2 separate regions of the Homo sapiens genome follow, and region 2 is linked to region 1. Evidence: fine-mapped expression QTL. Tissue or cell type: whole blood. Region 1 holds a variant in brackets; the other region holds the start of a gene. All regions are shown on one strand. Distances are between the middles of the regions.

Evidence for each region. PIP is the estimated chance that this variant, and not a neighbour inherited with it, causes the effect.
Region 2: it holds the start of ADAM28, and the variant in region 1 is fine-mapped to the expression of ADAM28 in whole blood (TOPMed, PIP above 0.99).

Annotation. Positions count from the first base shown.
Region 1 is chr8:24,353,238-24,361,454 of GRCh38, reverse strand. ADAM28 (ADAM metallopeptidase domain 28) reads right to left here. Exons shown (of 23, transcript NM_014265.6): 22 at 7,623-7,685; 23 at 2,441-7,071. The coding sequence ends at 7,051. The region is part of intron 3 of ADAM7-AS1 (ADAM7, ADAMDEC1 and ADAM28 antisense RNA 1); the gene reads left to right. Among named protein-coding and RNA genes, the nearest start is that of ADAMDEC1, 27 kb to the left of the region's middle. The variant G/T (reference allele first, on the strand shown) is at 4,033.
Region 2 is chr8:24,289,244-24,297,460 of GRCh38, reverse strand. ADAM28 (ADAM metallopeptidase domain 28) reads right to left here and starts at 3,392. Exons shown (of 23, transcript NM_014265.6): 1 at 3,266-3,392. The coding sequence starts at 3,311. ADAM7-AS1 (ADAM7, ADAMDEC1 and ADAM28 antisense RNA 1) reads left to right here. Exons shown (of 6, transcript NR_125808.1): 5 at 1,211-1,307; 6 at 1,404-1,647.

The DNA of each region.
Region 1 (8,217 bases):
TGCCCAAGGTCACAGCTCTTTTGAGAGCAATTTGTACCTGTGACTAGTTGACATGAGGGAGTAAAAGCTTTTCCCTTTTGCCTCAACTTGGCTTCATTCTGAAGGATAGCCCAGGTTCAGGGCTGGCTGGGCCAGCTAAAGCCTTCTTTGAGGCAGCATCATTCCCAACTCCTCCAGCCTAATCCTGCTTTCTCCCATTCCATTAAACAAATAGGGGACCTGACCTGAAAGCCCTCCATAATAAACTTCCTGGCTGCTAAAATCCATCTCAGATTCTGCTTGCCCAGGAACCCGAACTGTGATACAGAGAACTGCCTTTAGATGGTATATACACCATTGTTCATCACTGCATTATTTTAGCCATAAACATTTTTGAAAAAAGATTTCATTGTTGAATCAGATATTAAGTAAAACATTATTCATTAATAAAATAGTATTGATGGCTGCATAATATTCTTATAGATTTGTGTCATATTACTAAGTAAAATTAAAAGCCATAATACAAATAGCATAAATATTGAATTAATACTTAACTTATATACCAGACAGAAAAGAGAGGAAAAGGTCATATTTCCAAGTGTTGATTGAAATCATACTTGGTGAGATTAGGAAAAATTTTTGTCTTAGTACTTTCTCTTGTTTCTCAACCTTTCTATATTAAGCATATATTGTTTTTTAAATTTTTTAAAAATTATACTTTCAGTTCTGGGATACATGTGCAGAATGTGAAGGTTTGTTACTATAGGTATACATGTGCCATGGTGGTTGGCTGCACCCACCCACCCATCATCTACATTAGGTATTTCTCATAATGCTATCCCTCCCCTACTCCCCCACCCCGCAACAGGCCCCGGTATGTGATGTTCCTCTCCCTGGGTCCGTGTGTTCTCATTGTTCAACTCCCACTTATAAGTGAGAACATGTGGTGTTTGGTTTTCTGTTCCTCTGTTAGTTTGCTGACAATGATGGTTTTCATGTCCCTGCATAGGACGTGAACTCATCCTTTTTTATGGCTGTGTGGTATTTCATGGTGTATATGTGCCAAATTTTCTTTATCTAGTGTATCATTCATGGGCACTTGGGTTGGTTCTAAGTCTTTGCTTTGTGAACAGTATCACAATAAACATACGTGTGCATATGTCTTTATAGTAGAATGATTTACAATCCTTTGGGTATAAACCCAGTAATGGGATTGCTTGGTCAAATGGTATTTCTGGTTCTAGAACCTTAATGAATTGCCATATTGTCTTTCACAATGGTTGAACTAATTTACACTCCCAACAGTGTAAAAGTGTTCCTGTTTCTCCACATCCTCTCCAGCATCTGTTGTTTTCCTGACTTTTTAAGGATCACCATTCTAACTGGCATGAGATTGTATCTCATCGTGGTTTTAATTTGCGTTTCTCAAATGACCAGTGATGATGAGCTTTTTTTCATAGTTTGTTGGCTGCATAAATATCTTTTTTTGAAAAGTGTCTGTTCATATCCTTCACCTACTTTTTGATGGGGGATTTTTTTTTTCTTGTAAATTTAAGTTCTTTGTAGATTCTGGATATTAGCCCTTTGTCAGATGGATAGATTGCAAAAATTGTCTCCCATTTTGTAGGTTGCCTGTTCACTCTGATAGTTTCTTTTGCTGTGCAGAAGCTCTTTAGTTTAATTAGATCCCATTTGTCAATGTTGGCGTCTGTTGCCATTGCTTTTGGTGTTTTAGTCATGAAGTCTTTGCCCATGCCTATGTCCTGAATGGTATTGCCTAGGTTTACTTCTGGAGTTATGGTTTTAGGTCTTACGTCTGAGTCTTTGATCCATCTTGAGTTAATTTTTGTATAAGGTGTAAGGAAAGGGTCCAGTTTCAGTTTTCTGCATATGGCTAGCCAGTTTTCCCAACACCATTTATTAAATAGGGAATCCTTTACACATTGCTTGTTTTTGTCAGGTTTGTCAAAGATCAGATGGTTGGAGATGTCTGGTGTTACTTCTGAGGCCTCTGTTCTGTTCCATTGGTTTGTCTCTCTGTTTTGGTACCAGTACCATGCTGCTTTGGTTACTGTAGCCTTGTAGTATTGTTTGAAGTCAGGTAGTGTGATGCCTCCAGCTTTGTTCTTTTTGCTTTTTTTTTTTTTTTTTGGGTGGAGTCAGTCTTGCTCTGTCACCCAGGCTAGAGTGCGGTGGTACGATCTTGGCTCACTGAAACCTCTGTGCCCTGGGTTCAAGTGATTCTCCTGCCTCAGCCTCCTGAGAGCTGGGATTACAGGTGCCCGCCATCCTGCCTGGCTAATTTTTGTATTATTGGTAGAGATGAGGTTTCATCAACTTGGCCAGGCTGGTCTCGAACTCCTGACCCTCGTGATCCACCCACCTCAGCCTCCCAAAGTGCTGGGATTATAGGCATCAGCCACTGTGCCTGACCAAGCATACATCTTTTTACAGAAGAAAATTAAATAAGTATTTTATATTTGTGATTTGTCCAGATTTTAAAATAACATTGTCAAACTATTTAAAGTAACAAATAGTTTTAACTTTGTGTGAGGTGGGAGCAACATAAACGACTTAGTCATCTTAGTCATTTAATATTGAGATGTCAGATATATCCCAAGAGTATGGACTTTAATATGAGGTGAAGGAGATAAACCGTTTAATGTTCACAAGAAGTTGCCTTCACAATAAATTGTATACCGTAATTTTCATGCTTAGGATTTTTTTTATAACAATAGTATTCGCTTAGCATACTACTAACAGTAATAGTGATACTGTATTAAGTGTTGGGCATTGTAGCAGACCACCCAGGCCTAGTTGCTAAAAAGTGCCTAACATTGTCAAGGGAAAGCCTTTTTATGGAAGCAGCAAAAGAGACAAAGTGAATTCAAGGGCAGATGTGCCAACGTGGCTACAGATTTTGTTAGAGGTGTTTTCTCCTGAGTTGGGATCTTCCCTGACAAGGTGGAGCTCAGTATCTCCACACAGCTGTGCCACTCTTGGCTTGGCCCACTTTGGAGAAAAAAAATTGAGGAGAAAAGAATATGCAAGACTTGCTTATCACCCCAACCATTTCCATATTTTTCCATATTACATCCAGATGCTAGTGTATGCAAATTATTTAGCTTACGCTCAAGAGATGGATTCTTTGAACAATGACATATGATGAAACAATATTAAAGCTGATAATAATATTGGATGCACCAACTGAAAAATAGCAATATAACACTTAGGAAATAATGGTGTCTTTGAATGATGGGGAACATACTAGTCAAGTGGCTGAGAAAGCATGTACTTCTGAAAAATATTTACTGTGGGAAGCAGTAATAAAGTTTATACACATTTTGCTTTAATTTTTAAAATATCTGGAAATATAAGTTAAAAACAGTTAATTGGTTAGCCTTTATAAAATTAAACTGATAGGAAAGAAGAGAATGTTATTAAGTAAACAAGAGAAACAACTATATAAGTAAACAAGAGAAACAACTATAAATTTTGAAATTAGTGAACAGGAGGACTGACAGTACAGAATATAAAAACCAGTAATTTGGAAGATAAATTTAAGGAGTTATCCAAAATTACCAAGGAAACACAAAGTGAGAAAGAATATGATAAATGAGAATACTGGCTATCAGAGATTTCAAGCAAATCCTCGGTGCTAGTAAAGAAGGGAGAACAAATGGAAGAGACTAGAGACACAAAGAAAGGAAAAAAAGTTTTGCAGTGATGAAAGCCTATTAAATATAGTTAATTTTACCTAAACCTATCTGGAGCATTTAAAACATTATATGGTTTGGCTCTGTGTCCATCCCCCCAAATCTCATTTTTTTAATTGCTATAATCTCCACATGTTGAGGGAGGGACCAGGTGGGAGGTGATTGGATCATGGGGGTGGTTTCCCCCATGCTTTTGTCGAGATAGTAAGCTCTCAAGAGATCTGATGGTTTTATAAGTGTTTGACAGTTCCTCCTTCATACACATCTTCCATCATATGAGATGTTTCTGCTTCCTCTTTCATCATGATTGTAAGTTTCCTGAGGCCTCCTAGGCCAT[G/T]TGGAAATCTGAGTCAATTAATCCTCCTTTCTTTATAAATTACCCAGTCTCAGGTGGTATTCTTTATAGCCATGTGAAAACAGACTAATAGAAAATGTTTGTTCTCTACTTCCTTGTATCAGCTATCTATTGCTGCATAACAAATATCTCCAAACCATAACAACTTTAAACAACACATATTAATTATCATACAGTTTCTGTGGGTGTGTAATCTGGACAAAATTTAGCTGCATCCTCTACTTCAGGGTGTCTCACAAGGCTGAAGTCAAGATTCAGCTGGGAAGGAATCTAAAATTCCAAGCTTATTCAGTGGTTATTGGTAGACTTCACTTCATTTGAGGGTCGTTGAACTCAGGGGCTCATTTTCTTAATGGCTGCTAGCCAGAGGCCACCTTCAATTCCTTAACACATAGCAGTGATTTCCAATGTGAATAATAAAATCCTAATTATAATAATAACCCTTTCCATATTCTCTGACTGCAACCAACTAAAATTTGCTTTCTTTTCATGCATACTTCATTATTTTATAAAAAGCTAAAAGCCTTCCCAAAGGCCATATAAAACCAGTAATTTGGTGAGTTGTAATAAGTAGACAAACACTAAGGTATCTTAGAGTAACTGGATAAAAACATAATTTAACCTAATAATTTCACTGTTTTAAAGTAGACAAGGTAAAAATAACTAATGATGAAAACAGGTTTGGTGGCATATCTGAGGTAGTTAAATGTCAAATAAGCGGAATTCCCTTAAAGTTAGAAAGTTACGGATATAAGTAAGTGTGGAAACAGTATTGTGAAATCAAAAAGTCTGTTCTAAACTATTCTGCAGTTGAGCTGAAAGGGAAACATTGTAGGACTTGGGTTCGCAGTTCTATGATAAAATAATGGTTTTCCTGTCATTGTACTGCATTTCTTCTCTTCAAATAGGACGTATGATGCATCTGCATCAGGGACCTAGTGACATCATTTAGGAACTTGCAGGCATGTTCACATGCCACTGCTTTTGAGAGTGTATGGTTTAGTTTTTGCTTGGGTTATGGTACATGGCTAGTTGAGGATTCATAGATTTAAGATTTCCATTCCATCAGTATAAAAAAGGATTAGGTGAATCTATTACTGGGGACAGATATTTAAAAAACAACAACAACAACACAGAAAAGTTCACAAGTTGGTCACGAGTACATAATGGCTTTCCAGGAAATAGGGATTTATTTCTGGGTCAGGGGAGGGTCTTCTGAAACCTCACAGGGCAGATAAAGCTCTACTTTTAAAGTTGTTCTTCTGCAAATGCCACATGGAGAAAAAGCCTGTATCCTTGACAGTGATTTGATCAGTGGACTCTGGATTTCCTGAGGACTGAGCTTCACTTTTGAGGCCAGAGTGGGCTTATCTAGAACCTCATACTGCAAGGGTAAATGAACCATAAAGTTCCTCATGAAGCGACAGGCCTGTGGGGACCAGGTAAGTGATTGATAGAAATGGGTGAAGCAGACAAATACAAGAAAAACTGTAGCTGTGATGATGAACTAAAGCATGTTCCCTGATTATGGAAACAGCTACTTTACTAGTTAGGATGATCTCTGTTGAAAGTGAGAGAAAATCCAATTCAAAATGGCTTAAACAACAAGGAAAATGTATGGCTCATATAATAAGGAGTACCAAGAAAGTGTGAGGTAACTCCAGCAGTCACTGATCTACCAATTCCATGACATCATTGAAAGGCCAGGTTTTATTCTTTTCATCTTTCTGCTCTATCTATCTTTTTCAGCCTTCATAATCACCGTGTGGAGCGCAGCAGTACCAGCTAGAGTATTCAGATGCCCATATCCAGAAAAAGAGACGAGGAAAAATTTTCCAGAAGTGTTGTAACATAATTCCTCTGTCGTCTTACTAGCAAAAAAAAAAAGGGAGGGGGAGGATTATAAAATCATCTCCAAGTCGACCACTAGCAAGGAAAAATGAGGTTATTTTAATTGACTTGACTTACTTAAAAGGATAGGGATTTATCCCTGAGATAGATAGATTAGATAGGATATTCTTTCCTAGAAGTGGGCAGGTGAACAAAATTATTGTTCTAAAAGCCAGGAAAAAGGGGATTATTTGGTAGGAAACCAATAGTGTTTGCTACATTACCCATCAACTAAGCTGACGGTTGCTATGGGCAATGTAAGTCTGTTGTTGACAAAGCATCGGATTACTTTTAGATTACATCTGACAAAGCTGGGAATCTATTGTTTATGCAAGATCTCTCAATTTTTAAATATTAGCAATACATTCAAAACATGTAAAAGTACTATGTGTCCAATATCAATATCATTCAGACCAAATATATTTGCAGTGCAAACATGGCCTACAGGTCACCAGTTCGCAACCTGGTTTATCCTATTAATTTAACTGAAATTTTCTCCATTTAAAAAGTGAAAACCACTTTAACCATGCCAGTAATTAATTATACAAATATATATGATAAAACATTTTTAAATTCTTAGTTATACCAAATTGTAGAAAACCTCAAATGATATAGCTAATAATGATTTCAGAAGCTAATCTAGGAAAGAGATCCACAAAACAGAATTTTACATCATTTTCTTAACTGTGATTGTAATTTGACAAGTTAATGGTTAAAACAATCAAGATGTTGCAATCAATTGTACATTTAATGGATGTACAATTTTTCTTATTCCTCCAAGATTAGTGTGATGTTTTTATGTTTTGTTTTCATTAGAGAATGAATCAATTCCTATTACAGATTTTAACTTCGGAGATATTTCTTTACAATCATCTTCCTTCTTATAAGAATGGATAATTGAAATTTTAAATTCATGCAAAGGTTCTCAGGCATATGTTCCTCTTGAAAATTTTCTTTAGTCTCTTCAAAGTCTAACATGAATCAGAAAATGTTAACCTTCTTGAGTCGAGAGCAAATACTGGTGAGATAGATAGTATATTTCTCTGCCATCCAGATTTTCCAGTTTTCCAAGTTGATAATTTAGCCATTAGTTCTTGCTTAGCTGTTGCTTCATGCTTTTGGATTTGAGTCCTAAAAAAGACATAACTTCTAAATGATCAACTTTCTTCAAAAATTTAGATATTTACTATTATGAAGCTGAACTATGAAGAAATTAAAATTATCTGAAGTCAGTTTCTATTTCATAGGTCACTTGATACAGCAAAAACGAAGAAGTAGAAATGTGAGAGGATAGGAAGGGAGTGAGAAAAACACTACACTAAGATCTAAGTATCTATCCGGTAATTAGCATAATATGGAGAAGGTAGGGGACCAGAAGGAGAGTTACAGGATACTATACTTATTATTCTATGGGAGGTTTCTTCTCATGTTCATCCTTAGGGAATATTTCTGAGAAAATAAATAATATTGGTGTCTACATAGCTTTCTAGCTGAGAATCTTCTAATTTCTCTTTTTAATTATTGGCCATACCGAGAAATAAGACTTTCATGTTGGCACCCATCTCCAAATCATACAGATACTGTTCTTAGTAAGTTTTTTTCTAAAAAGACATGGTGGGCCTTCTCTTGACAGTAGGAGATTATAATACAAGAATATAATAATTTGGCTATAGATCTCTTACCTTAGGTGTAGACACTGGATTATCCTTGAAAACAGTAGGGGGAAGTGCGTTTGTGTCTTTATGCTACGTTAATTATAAAAACAATGGTATGGCATTAGAAATGCTATGCTTGTCCCATCTTAGCTATATTTATTTCCTTAATGAAATTATTTCCTAGCTCTTCTTCACTCATTTAAATTCTACCCAACTTTCAAGGTCCAGTTCAAATTCCAACTACTCAACCAATGAATATTCGTCCTACTTTAACCACTCCAAGCCCGTTGACTTTCTCCTCACCATATTTTTCCTGTCAGTGTCACTCGTCTTGGGCGATACTACAAATAACAGTTGAAGAATTAAGTGCTCCATTTTTATATGACTTGTTTTTTCTCACTAAAAATGTGAAATTTCTTGAAAGAAAAAAATCTCAAATGTAGGTCTTTCTCATTTACCCACAGCAGAATACCAGGCACAAGAAAAATGCTCAGGAGCCATTTAATGAGTGAATGTACTGTAATTCTTACTTCATGAGCACCTGACTCTTATTCCAGGTTTGCTTATATATGGCCCATTTTTCATACCCTACCTCCTACAGAAAACTATGACTAATATACAT
Region 2 (8,217 bases), 64 kb after region 1:
GTATAAAAGCAGAAAATGAAGTGAGTTTCCTTCTCAGCACCATTCAGAAATGGTAAGAAGGAAAACAGGCTCATCTAGCCAACACAAATTTTCTCTCACATGCACCCTGACCTCTATGCTTCTAGTTAGTATCTGAATCCCAATGTTTCATGAAATTAGAAATTGCAAACTGGCTCTTAAATATGGGCTTAAAATATGTAAGTTATGTAATTTATTTCCAACTTTTTGGTGGCCGAACACTTCCAAATGGAAACCAAAAACAAAGCAAAATAAAACAAACAACAACAACAACAAAAAAAAACCCACAACATTTCTTTTAGAAATCATTGGCAACCTCTCAATCTCTTCAGTTTGAAGTGAATGGAATTCCAGCTCCTTCCAAACTCCTGTCACTCCATATATTCTCTAAAGAAACTAAATGGAATTTCTCTTAAAGGCTCTTATTTTCTGGAAACCTAGAAGTCCCTGAAATAATGGGATCTGGAATACAACAAATTACACAGCCATTGTAGGGATGTAACAGACCTAAATATTGTTTAGCTCATCCATCCTTAAGTTTAATGGAAATGGTGCAGCGTCTTCCCCACTGAATAACATCACGTTAATTATTTTTGAAGCCTGAGGAACAAACACAACTAACTGCCATCCAGGGATTACACAAATCCAAGGTGTAACACAATATGTTTTTACTAATTCATTTTAATACTTGCCTTCTCTCTCCCACAGAACTCACACACTGGATTAGTCTTGACTAGCAAAACCAGATCAGGAAAAAGAAAACTGTTATTTTGGTTTAGATGGGATAATTATTTTTGACTGTTTTGAGTCTTAGAAAAGCCAAAGCTCATTAACAACGTTAATATGAGAGACATTAGTCTGGATTGCTACATTATTTGTTCATGTGTTTGGGGTCATTTTGGAAATGGGAACATGAGTATGTAATATTGACATTTTCATTTTCGTTCAAATGTGTTTGAAACTGTTCAAAGAAATGTCTTCTTTCCAAACTGAACACATCATATTAAACGCTGAATTAGGGTTTACACAAGGATATTGACTTATGTCCTGGGATTCTCTGCATCTCCTCAAACCATCTTGTGGTTTTAAACTTCATGCATTAAAAGTGAGTACAAACAAAAGGGAAAAAACTGCATTTCTATTAGGTCTGTTATTTTGACTATTTAGATTAAACTGTATATTTTCTTTTCAGTCTTCCAGTTACCTTATAAAGGCAAGGAAGAACTGGTAGTTTGAAATAAAATAATTTCAAAAAGTGCTGTACCCCCTGAGTATTCTGCTGTAATAAGGTAAGCACCTTTCTCCTTTGTTGATGCAATCATTTACATCTTCACCCCGCAAACACCTGTCACATCCTTTTAAATATTTGTTTTTCCTTTTCCTAGGATGAAATCCCATAAGTCAATTTTTTCTCGGGATTGTGAAGTTCACTGCACACAACCAGCCTTATTTTACATCTCTTTCTTTTATTTCAACCATCTGGGGACTGGGCAGAAGTCATGGTCAGAGGGGCACATATGTATTGCTTTGATGATGGGGGCAGAGAACAAACAGGAAGAACTGGGAAATGAAAATTGCTTTACTTCTTATATTCTGACTAGAAAGGCAACCCAAATGGGAATCATAACAGGGATAGTTCAGTGGCAAAAAGACACCCTTAAAAATAGAAGCTAGAAGTTAAAGGAGGGGTGACATCACACTTTTAGAGTTGACATCAGAGGAAGTTGCATCTCTTGGTGCCATGTTATACATGCACCGTCGGGGCAGCAGAACTGATTAGTGTGCCCAGTTGCACAAAAGGACTGTAATGTGCATGGGCCCCAGTGTTAGCCATGTGACTCTGTTAATGGATCCAGCTTGATCTTTACGCTCTTCAACTAAGCTAGTGCCCAAGCAGTTCTTGTATTTCAGCTTAGAGGGGGTTCTGGAAAAGCTCTTGGTGATAGCATTTTTGGAGAACGGAGAGAAAAAAACATTTCTATTAAGTCTGCCTCAAAAAGTAGGAATTTCAGGTCAATGTTAAATGCCTGGCATGAGTTTTATATATATTTTTAATATTTCAGGCTTATTTTACCAAAAGAAAGCTGGTGTAACACGTTCACATCAGACAAAATAGGTATCAAAGCAAAAGGCATTAGAGATGAAGAGGATCACAGCACAGTGGGAAAAGGTTCAGTTCAGATATAGGTACATATTATATAAAGCAAAAATACACAGAAACAAAAGGAAAATAATTCGATATTTAAAGATATTAGGTTAAGTGAAATTTTTATAAGTCTTGAAAACAAATCAGAAACAGGTGAGACACAGGAAAATCATTTTTAGCAACAAAGTACTAAGAGGGTGCATGGACAAGGAAAACTTTTCCCTCCCTAAGCCCATACCTCTAGTTGATAATCTGTTCCCATCCCCAGGTCCCAGCAAACATTCTAAGACCCAAGAACAGGTTTACTGGGAGGAATTCGAGGCACTGCAGTTCATGTGCTGAGTTAAATAAGCTCTGGAAATAGAAGCTGAAGAATCACAATACCCAATCTAATTTAACCAAAGTCTAATTAGAGAATTTACCAGAAATTGAGAGACTTGCTAGACATAATTTCCTGTTAGGAAGTAGTATTTTTCTCCTTTCAAATTTTTAAATGTTTGGTATAATCAGCAAAATAGAAGTAAATTATCAATTTAAGCTTAACAGAGATATTTTGTTAAGTAATATCACAGTACCTTATAAATAAAAAATATTAATTATTTCCAGTTAGTCACACGTATTATTACTAATAATGAGTAAATACAAAAATATACACTCAAACAGAAAGAGCCAAACTGGCTCCCATAATAATAGTAGGTATTTTCCTAAGCCTTGTACACAGTAATAAATAAATAAATCTGCCACATCTTTACCATTCTTTAAATGACAAGCTGGGTTTTGATGAATTCCACTTTTTCAGTCAAAAATCATATTCATGATTTAAATTGTGCTGTATGAAATTGTCCCTTTTATTTCTGTATATTCTCAGATGAGATGCATACATATTGGTTCAAGACCTCTTGTTGCCTCTTTTTAACATTGTCTTTGTATCACTCGCAGCCCCCAAACAACAGGTTAAAACCAGCCCAACTGGTTAGTAAGATTGATTGAGAAAAAAGAAAAAGAAAAAAGTCAAAATAGTTTATACAATAAAACTATTAGGAGACTATGAAAAGTTCGCTAATGCATTCAATAGAACCTGAAAAAGAGCTAAATATGTACCTGCAACAGAGAGGAGGAGACTGACTGGCAGGAGACCTTGCAACATGCTGGGTGATTCCAGGAGCACGGTGTCTGCTCTTCTCGCTCAGGTGGGTGCTGCTGGGTCTGTCCCTGCCTCCTCTCCAGTGAGACAGAATGAAACTCCCTGGTTCATTCTTGTCTCTGATTCAGGAAGTGTTTACTAAAGGTGTTGCGCAACCTCGAAGCTGTGGTCCTGCAACAATGGCCCAGCAGGCGGAAGTCCTGGCTGCCTCCTGGCTCTAAGATTACTTGATCTGAACTATTGTTTTGCTCTCCTTTGCCATACTCCCCACTCCAAAGTAGTACATTTCCAACATATTACTATAGCCAGATAAGCTACAAGGAAAGAGGCAACTGCATTAATGAGTCTTGAAAAACATGCTAGACATTTATTTACATTACGGATATGATATATAAATATATGTTTAAATATATTTTTATATATATACAGTTGTAGGAAAAAAGTTATTAAGAATGTTATTTTTCCCCCACATACATAATGTGGTTATGTAAAGCAATTTCTAATTCAACCTAATTACTATATAGCATTCTCTTTTCCATTATTTTATGTTCTATTCCTCACACAAGTGTACTCTCAGGAAGTTTGAACTATCCTGAAATAAGAATGTCTGACAATATAAGCACAATAATTTTTAGATCCTTGGGGGTATTTGTGTCATAACTGGCAATGAGGAGTGTGGAAGAAGGATTCAAGACCCAAAGGATACAATTTTAGGATCTGTCACTGGTGGTAGTAAGGCTAAACTGGGCATGTCTAAAAATCATACTTATAACCAATAAAATAACTAATATCAACTGAGCTGCTTATTAAGTTTTAGGTACTGATAGGGTTTGGTTGTGTCCCTACCTGAATCTCATCTTGAATTGTAGCTCCCATAATCCCCATGTGTTGTGGGAGGGACCCAGTGGGAGATAATTGAATCAAGGGGCGGGCTTTTCCCATGCTGTTCTCATTATAGTGAATAAGTCTCATAAGATCTAATGATTTTATAAAGGGCAGTTCCCCTGCTCAGGCTCTCTTTGCCTGCCTCCATGTAAGATGTGTCTTTGCTCCTCCTTCACCTTCTACCATGAGAGTGAGGCCTCCCCAGCCATGTGAAACTGTGAGGCCATGAAACCTCTTTTTAATTTACCCAGTCTCAGATATTTCTTCGTGATAGTATGAAAATGGACTAATACAGGTACTCTCCTAAATCTACTGTACTTGTTATTTTATTAGTCTTTATGATACTCATGTATTATGCATTTACAATCATTTTGCAGGTGAAAATTTGGGGTTTTAAAGGCAAAATTCAAAAGATTAAGAATCAGTTGTCCCCTCATTGTATAGATTAAGAAGATTAAGCAGATAAAGTCACCTATCCAGTAAGTGGTAGAAGTGGAATCTGAACTATGTGTTGTCTGGGCTCTTAGTCATATACTCTAATGCTTTCCCTTGGCTTAGCTGACTTGTACTCCCAGTATCATTTCTATTGAAAAGATTCTGGGAGAATAGAAATAATTATGAAATTCCTAAGGAATAGAAATTACGCTGAGGACCAGTTATTACCACAAAACCTAGTCCTAGTCCACTAAAATCATGCATCATTTTACAGATTCTGAAACACATTCTCATACTAGAGGGATTACAGTGATTATTGATGTCTCCAAATGATTATACAGTCATCAACTAAAACCACAAAGGAATTTTTGAGTCTAGTTACTGAGCATTTTAACCATCAGGATTGCGATTCACAGATTTCTTGCCTTTTCAACCCAAGTTCCATTGCTTTGTCTTTTCCAGGGAACAGAAAGGATACTTCAACTTTTAATTATTACATATTTTTTCTCCATTAATTCAACGTAATTTTACTTACAGCTATTATGTGTCAGACACTGAGATTGCAGTTGAAAAAACACAATCATGGCCGGGAGTGGTGGCTCATGTCTGTAATCCCAGCACTTTGGGAGGCTGAGGCAGACAGACTACCTGAGATCAGAATTTGAGACCAGCCTGCCCAACATGGTGAAACCCCATCTCTACTAAAAAAAAAAAATTAGCTGGGTGTGGTGGTGGTCACCTGTAATCCCAGTTACTCAGGAGGCTGAGGTAGGAGAACTGCTTGATTGCTTGAACCCAGGAGGCAGAGGCTGCAGCGAGCTGAGATTGCAACAACACACTCCAGCCTGGGCAACAGAGCGAGACAGTGTCTCAAACAAACAAACAAACAAAAAACACAATCACTTTCATTGAGATGTTCACAATCTGACAAAGATAAGTTCAATTACCATAAAATTGCACAGAGTGAGTACCACCTATAAATGATCACAATATCACAAGGTGTTTAGTGTTACAATAGATTTATCAATAGAAGTCAGAGGTCTACACCAAACAGGGCAGGGAGTGCATCCTGGTGGCAGGAGTCCTGGGAAAAGGACTCCCTATTTCATAAATGGTGCTGGGATAGCTGGCTAGCCATATGCAGAAGAATAAAACTGGACCCCTACCTTACACCATATACAAAAATTAACTCAAGATGGATTAAAGATTTAAATGTAAGACCTCAAATTATGGAAAACCTAGAAAATGACATTCTGGACATTGGCCCTAGGAAACAATTTATAACTTAAGTCCTCAAAAGCAATTGCAATGAAAACAAAAATGGATGAGTGGGACCTAATTAAATTAAAGAGCTTCTGTAGAGCAAAAAGAAACTATCAGCAGAGCAAACCAACAACCTACATAACGGGTGAAAATATGAGCAAACTACACAGCTGACAAAAGTCTAATATCCAGAATCTATAAAGAACTTAAACAATTGAACAAGCATGAGATAAGTAACCTCATTTAAAAATGGGCAAAAGGGTGGGTGCAGTGGCTCATGCCTGTAATCCTAGCACTCTGGGAGGCCAAGGTGGGCAGATCACCTGAAGTCAAGAGTTCGAGACTAGTCTAGCCAACATAGTGAAACCCCATCTCTATTAAAAATACAAAAATTAGCCACGTGTGGTAGGCACCTGTAGTCCCAGCTACTTGGGAGGCTGAGGCAGGAGAATCACTTGAACCCGGAGGAGGAGGTTGCAGTGAACCAAGACTGCGCCACTGCACTCCAGCCTGGGTGACAGAGCAAGACTCCGTCTCAAAAAAAAAGAAAAAAAAAAAAAAAAAGGGTCAAAAGAAATGAACAGACACTTCTCAAAAGAAGAAATACAAGCAGTTAAAAAAACATGTGAAAAAATTGCCCAACATAACTAATTATCAGAGAAATGCAAATCAAAACAATGAGGTACCAACTCACACCAGCCAAAATGGCTATTACTAAAAAGTCAAAAAATAACAAATGCTGGTGAGGCCACAGAGAAAAGGAAACACACAATGTTGGTAGGAATGTAAATTAGTTCAGCCACTCTGGAAAGCAGTTTGGAGATTTCTCAAAGAAATTAAAACAGAACTGTCATTTGACCGAACAATCCGTTTACTGGATATATAGCCAAAAGAAAATAAATTATTCTACCGAGAAGACACATGCTTATGTTCATCACAGTACTATCCACAAGAGCAATGACATGGAATCAAGCTAGGTGCCCATCAGTGGTGGAATGGATAAATACAATGTGGTACATATATACCTTGGAATACTATGCAGCTATAAAAAAGAATTAAATTGTGTTCTTTGCAGCACATGGATCACCTAGAGGCCATTAACCTAAGTGAATTAATGCAGAAACAGAAAACCGGTACCTTACACCATATACAAAAATTAACTCAAGATGGATTAAAGATTTAAATGTCAGACCTCAAACTATGGAAAACCTAGGAAATGACATTCTGGACATTGGCCCTGGAAACAATTTATGACTTAAGTCCTCAAAAGCAATTGCAATGAAAACAAAAATGGACAAGTGGGACCTAATTAAATTAAAGAGCTTCTGTACAGCAAAAAGAAACTATCAGCAGAGCAAACCAACAACCTACATAACGGGCGAAAATATAAGCAAACTGCACAGCTGACAAAAGTCTAATATCCAAAATCTATAAATACTGCATGTTCTCAATTATACATGGGAGCTAAACGCTGTGTACCCATGGACATAAAGATGACAACAATAGACACTGGGTACTGCTGGAGAAGGGAGGGAAGAGGGGAAAAGGCTGAAAACCTAGCTATTGGATACTATGCTGAGTACCCGGGTGGCAGGATTATTTGTACCCTAAACCTCAGCATCACGGAATATATCCATGTAACAGATGGATATGTACCTCCTTGAATCTAAAATAAAAGTTGGAAAAAAAGAATTATGAGAATAAATAAGGACAATATATTATAGCACATTAGTTTATGGCTGGTAGTGTTTGGAATTGTTGGAGCAAAGAATGCCTGAGAGAATGGGAAGATATCCTGCTAAGTATTTGTGCTTGACTTTGACGCTGTGGTGAATGGTCACCACTGATGGGATCGAATGAGAAGTATAACCTTCCTGCTTGCTTCTTGAGGAGGGGAGTGCCCTGGAAATGGTGAATGATGACAGTCTGCATGCTGATCCATGTGGAATTTTAAATTGGCACTTGTTCTTCGGCTCTTTTCAATTCTCTTGTAGTCGTGACATGCCTTTGATCAGTTTGTTCCAGTTATCATTCTCATAATTTTTCATCATTCTTCATAGCCCAGAGTTATAATTCCCTTTACTGTCAAAGAATTTATACCAATCTCTAAATGAATTTTATTTTCTGCTTCCCTGGTTATTTCCTCAAAGTTGTATCAAGTAAGCATAAAAGTTGAATTTGGGCAGTCAGTTTAATTTTCCCTTTTGTTTCTTTGTGATAAATACAGCATTATCATTGACATCTTTCATTGCCATGACTTGTCAAACTCTTTGCCAGAATATAAAATATAAATGGCAGAAAGAAGAGCTACATGACTGAAAAAACA